2 separate regions of the Homo sapiens genome follow, and region 1 is linked to region 2. Evidence: fine-mapped expression QTL. Tissue or cell type: amygdala. Region 2 holds a variant in brackets; the other region holds the start of a gene. All regions are shown on one strand. Distances are between the middles of the regions.

What was found. PIP is the estimated chance that this variant, and not a neighbour inherited with it, causes the effect.
Region 1: it holds the start of CCND2-AS1, and the variant in region 2 is fine-mapped to the expression of CCND2-AS1 in amygdala (GTEx, PIP above 0.99).

The regions. Positions count from the first base shown.
Region 1 is chr12:4,271,679-4,279,678 of GRCh38, forward strand. It overlaps CCND2-AS1 (CCND2 antisense RNA 1), which reads right to left and starts at 4,506. Exons shown (of 2, transcript NR_125790.1): 1 at 4,381-4,506. CCND2 (cyclin D2) reads left to right here and starts at 2,084. Exons shown (of 5, transcript NM_001759.4): 1 at 2,084-2,557; 2 at 4,327-4,542; 3 at 7,082-7,241. The coding sequence starts at 2,363. RefSeq lists silencers at 199-390, 375-494, 1,275-1,394, 1,925-2,014, 7,153-7,345.
Region 2 is chr12:3,931,444-3,939,707 of GRCh38, forward strand. The region is part of intron 2 of LOC105369608 (a long non-coding RNA gene); the gene reads right to left. Among named protein-coding and RNA genes, the nearest start is that of PARP11, 62 kb to the left of the region's middle. The variant A/G (reference allele first, on the strand shown) is at 4,167.

The DNA of each region.
Region 1 (8,000 bases), 340 kb after region 2:
TAAAACCAATAGGTGATTGTTCGGGGCCGACTGTGTGCGGGTGTACACGGTATTCGGCCCGGGTGTCATCCGCGGCGCTGGACTGTTTCATTTTGAGTTTGCAACTTGGGTTTTTCAGCGAGCTTTTTTTCTTCCTGAAAGCTAATGGCTTCCACAGCAATTAGACATTTTCCTCGCCCGCCCCTTCCCTCCCCTTTCTTTACATATAGGAGATGGGATACTCATTCCCGCTGCTATTGATAAGGTCGGAGGCGGCCGGGCCTCTCCCCAGCTTTCGCCCGCCCCAGCGCCCGCTCTCCCTCCGCCCTCCCTTGGCTTCCTTTTGATGTAGTGGGGAACGCGTCCTACTAAAAAAAAAAAAAAAAAAAAAAAAAAAAAGTAATCTGCCCGGTAACAATCAGCGCGCAGTAGCAGGAGCCCCAGAGCTATTGGCTATGCAAATAGAGGGAGGGGAGACGGCGCCCCAAACTCTTCCTCACCCTTTTAAAGCGATATCCCCTCCTTTCCCCCCCACCACCCCTTCCGCCCCACCCTCGTTTAAAGAGGCTGGCTCCGGGGCCTGAGTTAATCGCTTGCACCTCTAGTTTATTCGCTCCCCTCCTCCGCCTTGCAGGGAACCTAGTGTACGGCTCACCCAGCCCGCGCCCCACCCCGCCTTGCTGGCTCTCCGCGCCCCTGCCCGGGCCCCCTCTCTCGGTGAGGGAGGCACTCAGTCGGCCTCGGTGTGCCCAGAGAGCTCGAGCCACGCCATGCCCGCTGCACGTGCCAGCTTGGCCAGCACATCAGGGCGCTGGTCTCTCCCCTTCCTCCTGGAGTGAAATACACCAAAGGGCGCGGTGGGGGTGGGGGGTGACGGGAGGAAGGAGGTGAAGAAACGCCACCAGATCGTATCTCCTGTAAAGACAGCCTTGACTCAAGCATGCGTTAGAGCACGTGTCAGGGCCGACCGTGCTGGCGGCGACTTCACCGCAGTCGGCTCCCAGGGAGAAAGCCTGGCGAGTGAGGCGCGAAACCGGAGGGGTCGGCGAGGATGCGGGCGAAGGACCGAGCGTGGAGGCCTCATGCCTCCGGGGAAAGGAAGGGGTGGTGGTGTTTGCGCAGGGGGAGCGAGGGGGAGCCGGACCTAATCCCTCACTCGCCCCCTCCCCCTCCCGGGCCATTTCCTAGAAAGCTGCATCGGTGTGGCCACGCTCAGCGCAGACACCTCGGGCGGCTTGTCAGCAGATGCAGGGGCGAGGAAGCGGGTTTTTCCTGCGTGGCCGCTGGCCGCGGGGGAACCGCTGGGAGCCCTGCCCCCGGCCTGCGGCGGCCCTAGACGCTGCACCGCGTCGCCCCACGGCGCCCGAAGAGCCCCCAGAAACACGATGGTTTCTGCTCGAGGATCACATTCTATCCCTCCAGAGAAGCACCCCCCTTCCTTCCTAATACCCACCTCTCCCTCCCTCTTCTTCCTCTGCACACACTCTGCAGGGGGGGGCAGAAGGGACGTTGTTCTGGTCCCTTTAATCGGGGCTTTCGAAACAGCTTCGAAGTTATCAGGAACACAGACTTCAGGGACATGACCTTTATCTCTGGGTATGCGAGGTTGCTATTTTCTAAAATCACCCCCTCCCTTATTTTTCACTTAAGGGACCTATTTCTAAATTGTCTGAGGTCACCCCATCTTCAGATAATCTACCCTACATTCCTGGATCTTAAATACAAGGGCAGGAGGATTAGGATCCGTTTTGAAGAAGCCAAAGTTGGAGGGTCGTATTTTGGCGTGCTACACCTACAGAATGAGTGAAATTAGAGGGCAGAAATAGGAGTCGGTAGTTTTTTGTGGGTTGCCCTGTCCGGGGCCCCTGGCATGCAGGGCTGGATGGAGGGAGAGGGGTGGGGGGTGGCGGGGGACCGCGTTTGAAGTTGGGTCGGGCCAGCTGCTGTTCTCCTTAATAACGAGAGGGGAAAAGGAGGGAGGGAGGGAGAGATTGAAAGGAGGAGGGGAGGACCGGGAGGGGAGGAAAGGGGAGGAGGAACCAGAGCGGGGAGCGCGGGGAGAGGGAGGAGAGCTAACTGCCCAGCCAGCTTGCGTCACCGCTTCAGAGCGGAGAAGAGCGAGCAGGGGAGAGCGAGACCAGTTTTAAGGGGAGGACCGGTGCGAGTGAGGCAGCCCCGAGGCTCTGCTCGCCCACCACCCAATCCTCGCCTCCCTTCTGCTCCACCTTCTCTCTCTGCCCTCACCTCTCCCCCGAAAACCCCCTATTTAGCCAAAGGAAGGAGGTCAGGGGAACGCTCTCCCCTCCCCTTCCAAAAAACAAAAACAGAAAAACCTTTTTCCAGGCCGGGGAAAGCAGGAGGGAGAGGGGCCGCCGGGCTGGCCATGGAGCTGCTGTGCCACGAGGTGGACCCGGTCCGCAGGGCCGTGCGGGACCGCAACCTGCTCCGAGACGACCGCGTCCTGCAGAACCTGCTCACCATCGAGGAGCGCTACCTTCCGCAGTGCTCCTACTTCAAGTGCGTGCAGAAGGACATCCAACCCTACATGCGCAGAATGGTGGCCACCTGGATGCTGGAGGTAGGTCGGGGGGTGGCGCTCGCCAGGAGCCAGGACCCCTCCGGATGCTCGGGTCCCCGGCCGGAGCCCTAAACCTGGGAGAGGGCAATCCCCGCGCCGGCCTCCCGGCTCCTGTGCGGGAGTTTACCGCGCGCCTTCTGGCGAGACGCGTGGCTTTATTTCTGTTCCTCTCCAGATAAACTGGGGAGGCAGAGGGGGGAGGAAAATCTGGGAGAAGCGAGGCTGTCCTGGGCGGGGGTAGGGGAGCATCCCGCGCGCGTGTTCCTGCATGTGGCTGCCTCTTCTTCCCACCCCCCTCGCGACCTGTCTTTTGCGAAGCCGCCGCGGCTGCTTGCGCTGCGGCCAGGAAGAGAGTCGGGGCCTGAAATCGGGACCCCGAGTAGAAAGGCAACCCCCCCCAAAAGGCCAGAGCAAATTCGTCTTGGCCTCAGGTCCCCGCCTGTGGTCGCGACTCCGCGCTGGCACTTCACCGGGGAGGTGGAGGGAGGAGGGAGAAGGAGAGAAACGGGGAATTCGGGAGCCCCGGAAGTCCCATTGAAGAAACGCGTGTTTCAGGGGAACCCAAAAGAACCGCTTCTTGCCCCTCACTCCAAGTCTTTGCCCAGCGAGCCGTGTGCCCACGTATGCACAGCTCTGGACCTGCCGTGGTTTCGCCATGTTGCTTTGCAAACTCCCTTTGGAAAGGCTGGGAAACGTCGCCCGCTTACCCTCGCACCCCATTATCCCGGCCACCCCACTTCTAATCGTGCCCTCTCCCCCACCCCCCACCTCACGAAGATTACTTACAGTTTGGTTTTCCAGCTTCCTCGGTGCGGAGATTTGGGTGGGGTAGGAAGGGGGGGAGGGGGTGTGTGTAGGGGGGATACCGGGTCACCCCTGAAGGAGAGGTGGGAGCCCCCCGTGCCTCTTTCCAGGGCTCTCTGCTCCCGTCTTTCCCCTCGCTCGTCACCGCGTTCCCTAGTTTCTGTCCTTGTGGGCCGCAGCCGGACACTCCCGCCGCGGCGCTCACCCCTTCAAGTTTCCTCCCGGGATCCAAAGCCCCAGGGGTCGGAATACAGACCTTTCTGGCACCCGAAACCTCTGTTTCGGGAAGCCTGGCTCTTCTTTGGGGTTTTCACGCCAAAAGGGCTTTTCTAGGATATTTCCTCGATTTTTAATTATTTTTTGAAACCATCCCCCCCTGCTCCGACTCCAGCTGCCGAGGCTGCGGCGCTCTTCCTCCTCTCCTCCCTCCCCCTCTCTTCCCCACCTCTCCTCACCCGCCCCCCCAAAAGCGGCCCCTGGGCCGCAGGGACCCCCCCAGACATTTTTTCCAATTGTCGGGAATGATAGAGGAGGATCTGGGGATCCGGATGAGACCAAGAAGTGGACCCCCGGAGCCTCCAGAATATTTTTATTGATTTTTTGAAAAGATGACGAAATCCAAAAAAGAGTGAGTGAGTTAGAGTGCGCGAAGGAGTAGCCAAAGGGAGCGTCGCGGAGCTGCCGCGGCTGCTGCGCACTTCTCCGACTCCCCGTTTTGGAGCTGTAGTTCACCCCCTTTTATAGGATCCCTGGGAATACCAAAGCACTGATGGGCTATTCTGATTCACTCCAGTTTCCTCATCTTTGTTCTTTATTCTTATCACGCATTCTGGTCCCCTCCCCCTCCCACAAAAAAAAATTAATTTTTTTTGTTTCGATAGATTACGCTTTTTTATTCTTTTTCTCTTTTGCTGATGCTATGCTCTCCACCCCCGCCCCCCAACCCTTTCCCACTCCCATTATAGGTCTGTGAGGAACAGAAGTGCGAAGAAGAGGTCTTCCCTCTGGCCATGAATTACCTGGACCGTTTCTTGGCTGGGGTCCCGACTCCGAAGTCCCATCTGCAACTCCTGGGTGCTGTCTGCATGTTCCTGGCCTCCAAACTCAAAGAGACCAGCCCGCTGACCGCGGAGAAGCTGTGCATTTACACCGACAACTCCATCAAGCCTCAGGAGCTGCTGGTAATGACCGGCCCCTTCCTCCCTTCCTTTCTGCGATTCCCGCTTTCCCCTGGCCAACAATATGCCTTCTATCACCACTGCCAGAGCAAATTCTTGGGATCCAGAATGACCCCACCAATAGAATTTACCCACTTATGGGCGATAGCTCATTTAATAGGAAACCACTGTTTATTTTTTGTGTGTTCCTACTATGTGCCCAGGCTCCGTGCCCAGCACTGAGGCTACATCTGTGAATAAGATCCTCATGGAGATTTGGGTTGGTGAGACTCATTTGCAATTGTGTATGCATGTGTGTAGGGGACGCATGGAATATTTTAATTAACAGTGATAATATTTTAATTAAATTCCAAATTTCCAAAAATAGTCTGAGAACGTGTTCACATGATAGGTATGTGGCTGTGGTGTCTCCTAAAAACTTGGAGTTCAAAGGTAATGCCCTCTATATCTACAAAGTCTCAAGATACCAACACATAATAGCTGTTCACTAAATATCAGTTCATTGACTTTTGAGCAAAGTCAAAATGTGGCCTTTCACTGAAGGAGTCCGAGGCCTGGGTTCCTACCTCCAGTGGGACTGTGACCTCTGTACAACCCCAGGGATCCTGTCTTATCTCTGCTTTTCTACCAGGGAACCTTTTTCCCACCTGATCTAACTCCTTTTCCCTGCAGCTTGACATATAAGACGACCATATTGCAGCTGTACCGCATGGAATAGCGGCTCCAAGGCCCACCTTCGGTGGTTTGCACACCCCTCTTTGCACTGTTCAGAAAAGCACCCCCTCCTTCCCGCCCCTCCCCCTCCTCACTGGTAGGGCCCGCACAAAGTCCACAGGGCTGAGGCTGGCTTCTTGAACTGAGCTCTTTGTGAGGAGCCTTCCTTTCTGGGGCTCTGCTGCCATCTAGTGGAAGACATGCACAAGGTTGGGGGAGGAATTGCCGAGAATGTGGAGAGGGGCCTGAATGACTTCACCTTTGAACCGCTGCCAGGTTTTAGCTGCTTCTGGTTTGGTCCGAGAGGCCTAGAAAGGTGCTTTCTTCTGGGAGATCTGCTTCCTTTAATAACGGTGCAAGACCAGTGGTTCGTACTCGCATTACCCTGTGAAGAGGAAGGGCTGGCATTTCAAGCCATCTTTGAAGATGATGGTGGTTTAGTAGTTTATTGGGGTGCTTTACCCCGGCTGTACACAGAAAGCCAAGGCAGATTTTAAAGCTTATGAAGAAAACATTGTTAGAATTGGGAACCAATTTGTTTTTCTCATGAGAGAGCAGGAAAAATCATCTTCATATGGTTCATTTGTTTCGAGAGGATGGTGAATTGAGATGTTCTTCAGGACACCCAAATCTTTCCAGGACTAGCCAAGCAATATATTGCTACAAACAAACTTGGCTTTTTCCTATTCCCTTTATCCCAGAAGTTGGGATTTGGAAGAGTCCTATTTTACAAATGAGAAGGCTGAGGCCTGGGAGGGAAAGGGAATCACCCCCAGCCCCACAGCTGTGGGACTGGTGCTCTGGTTGCTGGTTTAGCAAATGAAAGAGATTCCAGGTTCTCCAGGTGAATGGGAGAGAGGGTGCATTGGCAAACAGGCCCTGCCTCTCATTCTTCTGATGACAGCTCAGTGGATAGGCATATTTTCTGGTAGCACATACGATATTTTTAATGTTTTATTTTGGACCGTTTCCCTTTGAGCACAGTTTCCCGTAAGTATCTCAGTGAAAGAGGGAAACAAGGTTCTTTTTCAGGTGGGTTGCTGGTGAGAGACCCAAGAGACAGGGTTGTGTGGTCCCCACACTTGCACTGAGGGATGCTGTGACACTGAGCAGGCACCCTCACCTTGCCCCAGATCACCTCCATCTGCAAAATGAGGTTGCTAATGACCATGTGGTCCTTTAGTCATGATGACAATGGCCTGTGAAACATTTAGGGGAAAGGGCTGAGTGTCACATCCCCAGAATTTCTGCCTGATATGTAAAAGGGGAGTTTGAGCAGCAGAGAGATAAAGGCACTTTTTGGCACTAAGTAAAAGCAAGCTAATTGGTTGCCAAGGAGTTGGGCCAAGGAACCTTATTTTGAGCTTTATCTGTGTGCATCATTTTTCCATGAAGATTAAAAAGACTATTAATTCGGTGATAGAGACATATACAATAAATTACCATGAAAGGGCCACAATGACCTTGGCCGTATCTCATTGTAGGTTCAGCTTTCTGGGTGGGCGGGAAGCAGTATTGCCTGCAAGTCAGGGTTGGGAGGGGGTAAGGGGAGCTGGAGTGGAAACGAAGTAGAAGAAAATAGAATCTTGGCAACAGCTACCTGGGCTCTCATTATTTTCAGTGGAGCCTGACATTTGAAGCATAAGAAGAGCTGTCAACAACTTCAAAGCTTCAGGGGCACATTGACAAATGGGCCCGCCTTACAATCTAGCAGCCACGTCCTAATGAGCGGCCTTAAAACTGGTCTGGAGCCCAACCCCCAGCCCCCTACACCAGGTCAGCCTGTGGAATTTAGATTCTCCTCTTCTCTTCCTGCCTTCCCCTCCAGGAGTGGGAACTGGTGGTGCTGGGGAAGTTGAAGTGGAACCTGGCAGCTGTCACTCCTCATGACTTCATTGAGCACATCTTGCGCAAGCTGCCCCAGCAGCGGGAGAAGCTGTCTCTGATCCGCAAGCATGCTCAGACCTTCATTGCTCTGTGTGCCACCGGTAAGATGAGGCTTGAGCCGGGGAGGGAGATGGGGGAGCTCTTTTGGGAGATGTCCGGGGAGAGGCAAAAGGCCGTAGGAACTTTCATTTTAGTTCAGGAGTTTGGAGGAGGGGTGGTCTTGAGTAGTCTAAAGTCTGAAGTTTCATTCCTGGGTTGCTTTTTCTTTATCTGAGCTTTATATATTCGCTTTCTCTGCTAAACTCATAAATGGTTTATGAGGACAGGTGTGGTTAAGGCAAAAAAAATTAGTGCCTGTTAAAATATTCTTTATGATGGCTAAAGTGCTCTTTGAAGATTACATATACTGCTCACTGGTTGTGTTCAAATCTTTAATCTTTTAAGGAAAAGGATGGCTTGGAGATAAGCCCAAGAGGAAATCTCGAGGGGGATGGGGGCAAATACAGGTTAAAGGAACAACGTCAAGATAAATATGCTGCCTGCCTTGATTAGTGGTAAGGGAGACCAAAGAAATTCTTTTTTTTTTTTTTTTACTGTAGGGCATTTATGGCCTTCTAGCTGTTTGCTTCTCTAGCTGTTTGCCCCACTGGGCGCGGGAGGGAACCTGGTTGGCTTTCGGTGAGGCTTTACTTTCTGAGCGCTGGGTTCTGATGCCCTCAGTTCATGTGGAGGTGTTTTGATTTTGGCCGCAGCCTTTAACGTTGCAATTCCGCCTACCACGTGGATCCCACAATTGATACATCATTCCTACTGGCCCATTTGTTTTGTAGTTTCCTAATAAACCAAAGGCAGTGGTTTGC
Region 2 (8,264 bases):
AGATAAGGCAGCCCTGATGTTTTTAAACAAGGCTACCCATGATAGTGCGGGCTCCACCTGCAGCTCTCAGGTCAGCAGAACTCCTTTCCCCAAAAGAGAGCCCCTCTCCCCCAGGCCCCTTTCTGCTTGCTGTGGAGTTACCTTGCAGAAGCCCAGGGTTCACTACAATGTTCTGGCATGTGCAGATGCCTTCCCAACTCTTACTACAACTTGGAGTTTGTCTTTCTGGTCTGTTTACTGCACCCCGCCCCCCCCACCCCCAGCCCACCCCTCACCCTTCCTGGCCTGCTTACCCGCCCACCACCCAAAGAAAAAAGCCTGGGCCTTGTCCAACAAGGCCCCCTGTCCCCTTTAACAAGCGAAGTGTGCTGGCATTGCAATTGGTGGTCTTCTCCCCTGAAGGTCGTTAATTAGTACAGAATGTAGACTTCAGTTGTCTTGCCAGCCCCGATGAAAACGCAGCTGGCAGGTAGCCGAGACAGAGGAATTTGTCATAGGTTAGATCAGCTCAAGCTCTAAGGACCAAGTGTACAGCTTATGCAAATAGTTTTGCTTAGCATGGATCCTGTGTTCTTATTCCCCCTCTCTCCCCCCAAGATTTTTTTTTTAACTGAAGGGTGGGGAGGGAGTGGGGGAACAAGGGAAGGAGGGAGAACAAGCACTTACTTGCCAGATCTCATTCTAAATCAGAAAGGAGCAAATTGCTTTCCCTAAAAAAGAAAAAGGCAGGGAAAAAAGAAGACAAAACACCCATCCTTTGGTCTAATGTACCGAGCATTTGAAAGCTGAATTGCTCAATAGGAAAGACTAGCAGTGAGTGTATTTGGAGAGACTATTATCCCCATCAAAACCCATTCACACTCTCTGGGAGGCCTGCAGAGCACCTGGGTGGGGACTTGGAACATTGGGGTTCTGTTCCTCTCCCTGCCCTGATGGTGTCACCTCCTCAATCCTGCCCTGGTTTTCCCAACTTTGGCAAACACTTAGTGCTAGCCTCAATTAGACAGAGCATCTGGGCACCCACGAATCCCAGAAGACAGAAGAGTTATGGTGGCTTCTCTCAGCATGTGCAGCACTAGCTTGGCATACTATAAAGACCTGTGACCTCAAAGTCCGGCGGGCCAAGCCAGTTATGAGCTGTGTGATTTGGGACACTTCTCTTAACCTCTGTGAGCTTCAGCTCCCTCATCTATAAAAACAGGGACAGCCATCTTTCCCTCATATTCCCTCAGTGGTTTACCTGGCACCTAGTAAGGGCTCAATTAATACTTGACGAGAATGAATGAAGCAAGATAACGAGGTAACAAGCATGCTGCCTGGTGGGCAGTAGATACTCAGGAAAGTGTTGGCATGCTGATTATGGTGATGAGACCGAAAAATAATCAAGAGAAAAGTTGGATTTCAAAGTTGTAAAATTGCACTGAAGGCATTGAGTTGGCTCAACATTGGTGGAAGTGAAGATGAGGGGTGGGGTGGGAGTAGGAGAAGAAAACCTCAGGGTTTGTCTAGGACAGGGATTTTTAATCTCAGAGTTATTGACATTTTGGACAGGATAATTCTTGGTTGTGGAGGGTTTTCCTGTGCCGTGTAAGATGGTTAGTAGCATCCTCTACCTGCTAGATGCCAGTCGTACCTTCCTCAGCTGTAACAACTAAAAATGTCTCCAGACATTTCCAAATGTTCCCTAGAGGGCAGAGTGTCCCCAATTGAGAATTACCACTGATCTAAGATAATTTCCTCCAGGAAAGCTGATGAGCGATCTGGTGAACTCCGTAGACTGTGGCTATGCGATACTTACATTTCAGCTGCTACCTAACACTGTGGCAGAAATAGCAATGACTTGCTTAAGGACTACTCTGAAGGTCAAAGGAGGATGTGAGCCAGACTGATGAAAAAGTTATTACAGACTTCAAGTTTCCAGACCGGTATGTAAGGGGTTTGGAAGTTGCCTCTCTGTCCTAATAAGTAAAAAGATGAACAAACTGAAAAAATCAATAATTCTCCTTAAAACTATCAGGCATGTGAAATCACAGGGTAAACTGCTGCCCCCAAAATTGGAGAGACAGACAGGTGAATACAGAGAGTTACAACCTAACTGGAGCCGGAACCTACTCACAGAAACCACTGCAGGAAGCAACGCCCGCCTTGGAAAACTGAACTGTAACTGACAAATTACTGCAGGCTCAGTGTGGACAAGTTTGAGAGTTAAACACTCCGGTGAGACCCAGTCATAGAGGGGTAACCACATTTTTGTGAGTTTTACTGCAGGAGCTCCACCAGGTTCTTACAGTGAGTATCAGAGGAAAGTCCCCTTGTATTCCTAGCAGGTAAAGAGCGAAAAGAACCATTCTGAAATACACCAGAGTACTCTGTCTCCCCTCAAGAGAAACTGTTCTAAAAGAGCCTAAAATGTTGGAGTTTTACCAGAACCTAGCTAAACTGGGGAAAGGGAAATATACCAAACTCCAGCCCCCAGAGTCATTCTGTCCCACCCAAGGGCAGGGTGTGGGGACTGAGATGCACTTGTGAGGTTCACAGCCCAGGGGCACAGGTTCACTAAGAGATTGAGACCTGCTCCAGAGGACTATAGAATGTTTACTCTCCTCTCATGCCTTGCCACCACACACTAACGGCCTATTTACAGCAGTTCCTTCTATCCAGTATGTCCAGCTATCAAGAAAATTACAAGACATATTAAAAGGCAAAAATCACAATTTGAAGAGACAGAAAAAGCATTAGAACCAGACTCAGATACAACAGGGATGTTGGAATTATCGAACTGGGAATTTAAAACAGCTATCATGATTAATGTGGTAAGAGCTCTAGTAAATCAAGTAGACAGCGTGTAAGGAAAAGATGAGCAGTGTAAGCAGAGATGGAAATTCTAAGAAAAAAGCAAAAAAAAGGTTAGAGTTAAAAAACACTAGAGATAAAAAAAAATTAGCTAGAGATGGCTGGGTGCAGTGGCTCACGCCTGTAATCCCAGCACTTTGGGAGGCCGAGGAGGGGGGATCACGAGGTCAGGAGATAGAGACCATCCTGGCTAACACGGTGAAACCCCATCTCTACTAAAAATACAAAAAATTAGCTGGGCATGGTTGTGGGCGCCTGTAGTCCCAGCTACTCGGAAGGCTGAGGCGGGGGAATGGCGTGAACCCGGAAGGCAGAGCTTGCAGTGAGCCAAGATCGCGCCACTGCACTCCAGCCTGGGTGACAGAGCGAGACTCCGTCTCAAAAAAATAAATAAATAAAATAAATAAGCTAGAGATTTGAAAAAAAAAAATGTCTTTGATGGGTTCATTAGTAGAATGGACACAGCTAAGGAACAAATTCCCTGAGCTTGAGAATATGTCAATAGAAACTTTCAAAATGAAAACACACACACAAAATAGACTGGGGAAAAAAAGAGAAAACTCCACAAATTGTGGGACGACTACAAAAGGTGTAACATTCATATAATGGGGATATCAGAAGTAAAAGAAAGAAATGAACAGAATAAATATTTGAAGCAACAATGACTGAACATTTCCACAAATTTGTGTTTGGTCAGACATTAAACCACAGATCCACAGATCTAAGAAGCTCAGAGAACACAAGCAGGATAAATACAAAAACAAAAAACCATAAAACAAAAACCAACTATATTTAGACATATTGTATTGAAACTGCAGAAAATTCAAAAGTAAGAAAAAGTCTTGAGAGAGGCCAGAGGAAAATGCACCTTATCTATAGAGGAACAAACATAAGAATTACCTCCAACTTCTCATCAGAAACTGAGCGAAGAAGAAGAATAAAACGGAATCAGGTAAAATGCTCAATTGAAACCACAAAAGGCAATGAATAGGAAACCAAAAGCACGGCAACAAGAGCGAAAATTGACAAGTGGGACTACAGCAAACCAAAACACTCCTGTCAGCAAAGAAAACAGTCACAGAATGAAAAGGGAACACAAAGAACAGGATAAAATATTTGCAAATTATATATATAGTAAGAGATTAATATTTTAAAAATATAAGACGTCTACAACTCTATACCCAAAAGAGAAAAAAATAAACAAAATAAACAACCTATTAAAACACAGGCAAAGGGCCGGGTGAGGTGGGCTCACGCCTGCAATCCCAGCACTTTGGGAGGCCGAGGGGGGCAGATCACGAGGTCAGGAGATC[A/G]AGACCATCCTGGCTAATACGGTGAAACCCCATCTCTATTAAAAGCACAAAAAAATTAGCCGGGCGTCGTGGTGGGTGCCTGTAGTCCCAGCTACTCGAGAGGCTGAGGTGGGAGAATGGTGTGTACCCAGGAGGCAGAGCTTGCAGTGAGCCGAGAGCACGCCACTGCACTCCAGCCTGGAGGACAGAGTGAGACTCCGTCTCAAAACAAACAAACAAACAAACAAACAAACAAACAAACAAACGAAAACATAGGCAGAGGACTTAATAGTCATTTCTCCAAAGAAGACATACAAATGGTCAACAGGTATATTAAAAGTTGTTTGACATCACTAATGACAAGGGAAATGCAAATCAAAACGACAATGAAATATCACCCACATCCATTAGGATGGCTACGATCAAAAAACCAGGAAAGAGTAAGCACTGATGAGGATATGGAGATGATGATTGAGGAGGATATTGGAACCCTTGCGCACTGTTGGTGAGAACTGAAAATCATGTAGCCGTTATGGAAAACAGTACTGAGGTTTCCTCAAAAAAAATCACAAATAGAATTACCATAAGATCTAGTGATCTCACATATAGATATTTATCACAAAGAACTGAAAGCAGAGTCTTGAGTAGATATTTGCATTCTGATGTGCATAGCAGCATAATTCACAACAGCCAAGGGGCGGGAACAATCTAAATGTCTATCAATGGATGAATAGATAAGCAAAATGTGATATGTACATGCAATGGAATATTATTAAGTCTTAAAAAAGAAGAAAATCCCATTATATGCTATAACATGTCTGAATCTTAAGGACATTATTTTAAGTGAAATAAGCCTGTGATGTAAGGACAAATCTTACATGATCCCACTTATATGAGTATCTAAAATAGTCAAACTCATAGAAGCAGAAAGTAGTATGGTGATTACCCAGAGTGGGCAGAGGGGACTGTCCAATGGGTAGGGAGTTGATGTCCAATGGGTATAGAGTTTCAGCCATACAAGTTGAAAAGTTCTAGCTGGCCGGGCGAGGTGGCTCACGCCTGTAATCCCAGCATTTTGGGAGGCCGAGGCGGGGGTATCACGAGGTCAGGAGATGAAGGCCATCTTGGCTAACACGGTGAAACCCCGTCTCTACTAAAAATACAAAAAAATTAGCCGGGCGTGGGGGCGGGCGCCTGTAGTCCCAGCTACTCGGGAGGCTGAGGCAGGAGAATGGCGTGAACCCTGGGAGGCGGAGCTTGCAGTGAGCCGAGATCAAAAGAATCACCTTTGAAAAAAATTGATAAGCTGGACTTTACTAAGATTAAAAAACTTCTGCTCTAAAAAGACACTTTTGAGAGAATCAAGACAAACCACAGAGTGGGAGAATATATCTTCAAAACACATAACTGATAAATGACTTGTATTCAAAATATGCAAAAAAAAAAAAAAAACCTCTTAAACGCAACAGTAAAAAAACCCAATTACTCAATTAAAAATAGACGGAAAATTTGAACAGATACCTCATCAAGGACGACATAGAGATGGCAAATAAGTATACGAAAAAATGCTCAACATCATTTGTCGCTAGAAAATTGCAAATGAAAGCAATAATGAGATATCACCACACACCGGCTTCAATCTGCAACATCCACAAATCTGACAATATAAATTGTTGATGAGGATGTGGAGTAACAGGAAGTTTCATTCATTGGTGGCGGAAATGCAAAGTGGTACAGGCACTTTTGAAGGCAGTTTAAGAAACTGCCAAACTGTCTTCAAAAGTGCCTGTACCATTTGTGCTGCTGGGTATTTATGCAACTGGATTTGAAATTTATGTCCACACAAAGTTGCACACAAATATTTACAACAGTTTGATTTATAACCACCAAAAACTGAAAGTACCAAGATGTCCTTTAATAAGTGAATGGATTAAACAAAATAGGCACATCCAAGCAGTGAAATACTCATCAGTGATTTAAAAAATGGAACAAAAAGTGGCAAAAATACATGGATGAAACTTAAATGCATATTGATAAATGAAAGAAGCCAGTCTTAAAAGGCAAAACTACAGCAATGGTTTTAAAAATCAGTGGCTGGCCGGGCACAGTGGCTCACATGTGTAATCCCAGCACTTTGGGACGCTGAGGCAGGTGGATCACAAGGTCAGGAGTTCGAGATCAGCCTGGGCAACATGGTGAAACCCCATCTCCACTAAAAATACAAAAATTAGCCGGGCATGGTGGCGGACGCCTGTAATCCCAGCTACCTGGGGGGCTGAGGCAGAGAATTGCCTGAACCCGGGAGGCAGAGGTTGCAATGAGCAGAGATTGTGGCACTGCACTCCAGCTTGGGCAACAGAGTAAAAAAAAAAAAAATCAGTGGCTGACAAGGGCTCATGAGACAAGAGGAAGGGTTGAATAGGTGAAGTACAAGAAATTTTTTAGTGAACCTATTCAGCATGATTCTGTAACGTTGGATACTATTTGTCAAAATTCAAAATTCATTGCACTTTTCAGCACAAAGAATGAATCTTAATGCATACAAATTTTAAAAAAATCATTTAAGAGGTTGAGAAACATCAGAATGGAATGATAAAGGTGATGAAGCAATCTAACTCTATCATAAATACATAAAACAACCTCACTGTGGGAGTTGGGAAAAGAGCTGACCTAAACAACTTTGGAAATGAATAGAATCTGTAAGACTACAGTCAAAAGAAATGATACATAAACACCGAACTCTCCCTGGTAGGTTGTTTCCCGTGGGGATATGAGTACACAGCCTGACACTACACTACCATACATGTATACTGGAAATGAACAATTAAGTAAATGGATGGTAGGTGGTGGTAGCCAGATTTTTACTACTGGACTAGGGAATTACAGGTTTGCTAGGGGAGGAGGCTAAAATTAACCATGTGGTAATGGTTTTGAATTGAAGACATTGGTATGAATTTACGTACATAGATGTTTACACATAGAAATACGTATAGACTTGTACACCCACAGGTTAGTGAACACACATACATTTCCTTGATATGCCAGCTGAAATGGCATAGAACCAATGGGTCTCCAATAGCAATGAGCACACCTAGCACCCAGATCTTGATTTCTAACACCATTCTTCAATTAAAAAACAAACAAACAAACAGACAAACAAAAACCCAGACTCCTTGAAGAAATATCTGATTCTAGGACTAGGTCAGAAAATTTACAAAATGAATCTGGAACATCTTGTATTGCCAGAAAGTAAGGAAGTACTGAAAAATTACAGTGAGTGAAGATTAAAGTTAGATAATATATGCAAAAGCAGCTTATAAAGCATTATCATTTATAAGAATTTGTGCTAGGACTCATAAATGGGTACTGCTGCAGCCTGGATTTGACTCTCGGTCAAGGAACCAGTTCTGTGGAGGCATAAATCCTTTAACACAGGAAAAAACAAACATCTATAAAAATTAGCTTGATACAACACAAGGAAATGATAAATGTTTGAGGTGATGAATATGCTAATTAACCTGATTTGATCATTACACATTTGTATACATATGTATCAAAATATCACTCTGTACCCCATAAATATGTACAATTATTATGTGTTAATTAAAAATAATAAAAGCCAAAAGGAGCTAAATCTGAAGAAGAAAACCGAGAACAAATGGGCCCTGAGTAAGCTTCATGAGTTTTAGTGCATGAGTAGTATGATGTTTATTTTGACTGCTCTGAAGCCTTCCTGTTCCTAGGCTGTTGAAGTTGTACAGTAAGTAATTCTGAGTAAGAGAAATGTCACTGTATTTAAAGAAGTACAAGTCCTCGTTTTCATGGGCAACTTACATACACAAATTATCCCAGTCCCAAGTGACACAGAGATGCATATCCACCCTCTTACATATGTATTTTTTAAATCTATCAAAGTTATGAAGCCTAGATTGTAAAAGTCCTAGAAGGCTACCTGGAAGTTTGAGGCAGTAAGAATCGTTGACAAATATCTAAGTGGAGCTTCTTACGTTCTAAACACCATGGCATTTTCTTTCTTGAAAAGGAAGTAAATTCACTGTCCTCAGTGTCCCCCCATCTAATCCATGTTCCACACTGAACTACATAAAAAAGTACAATCAT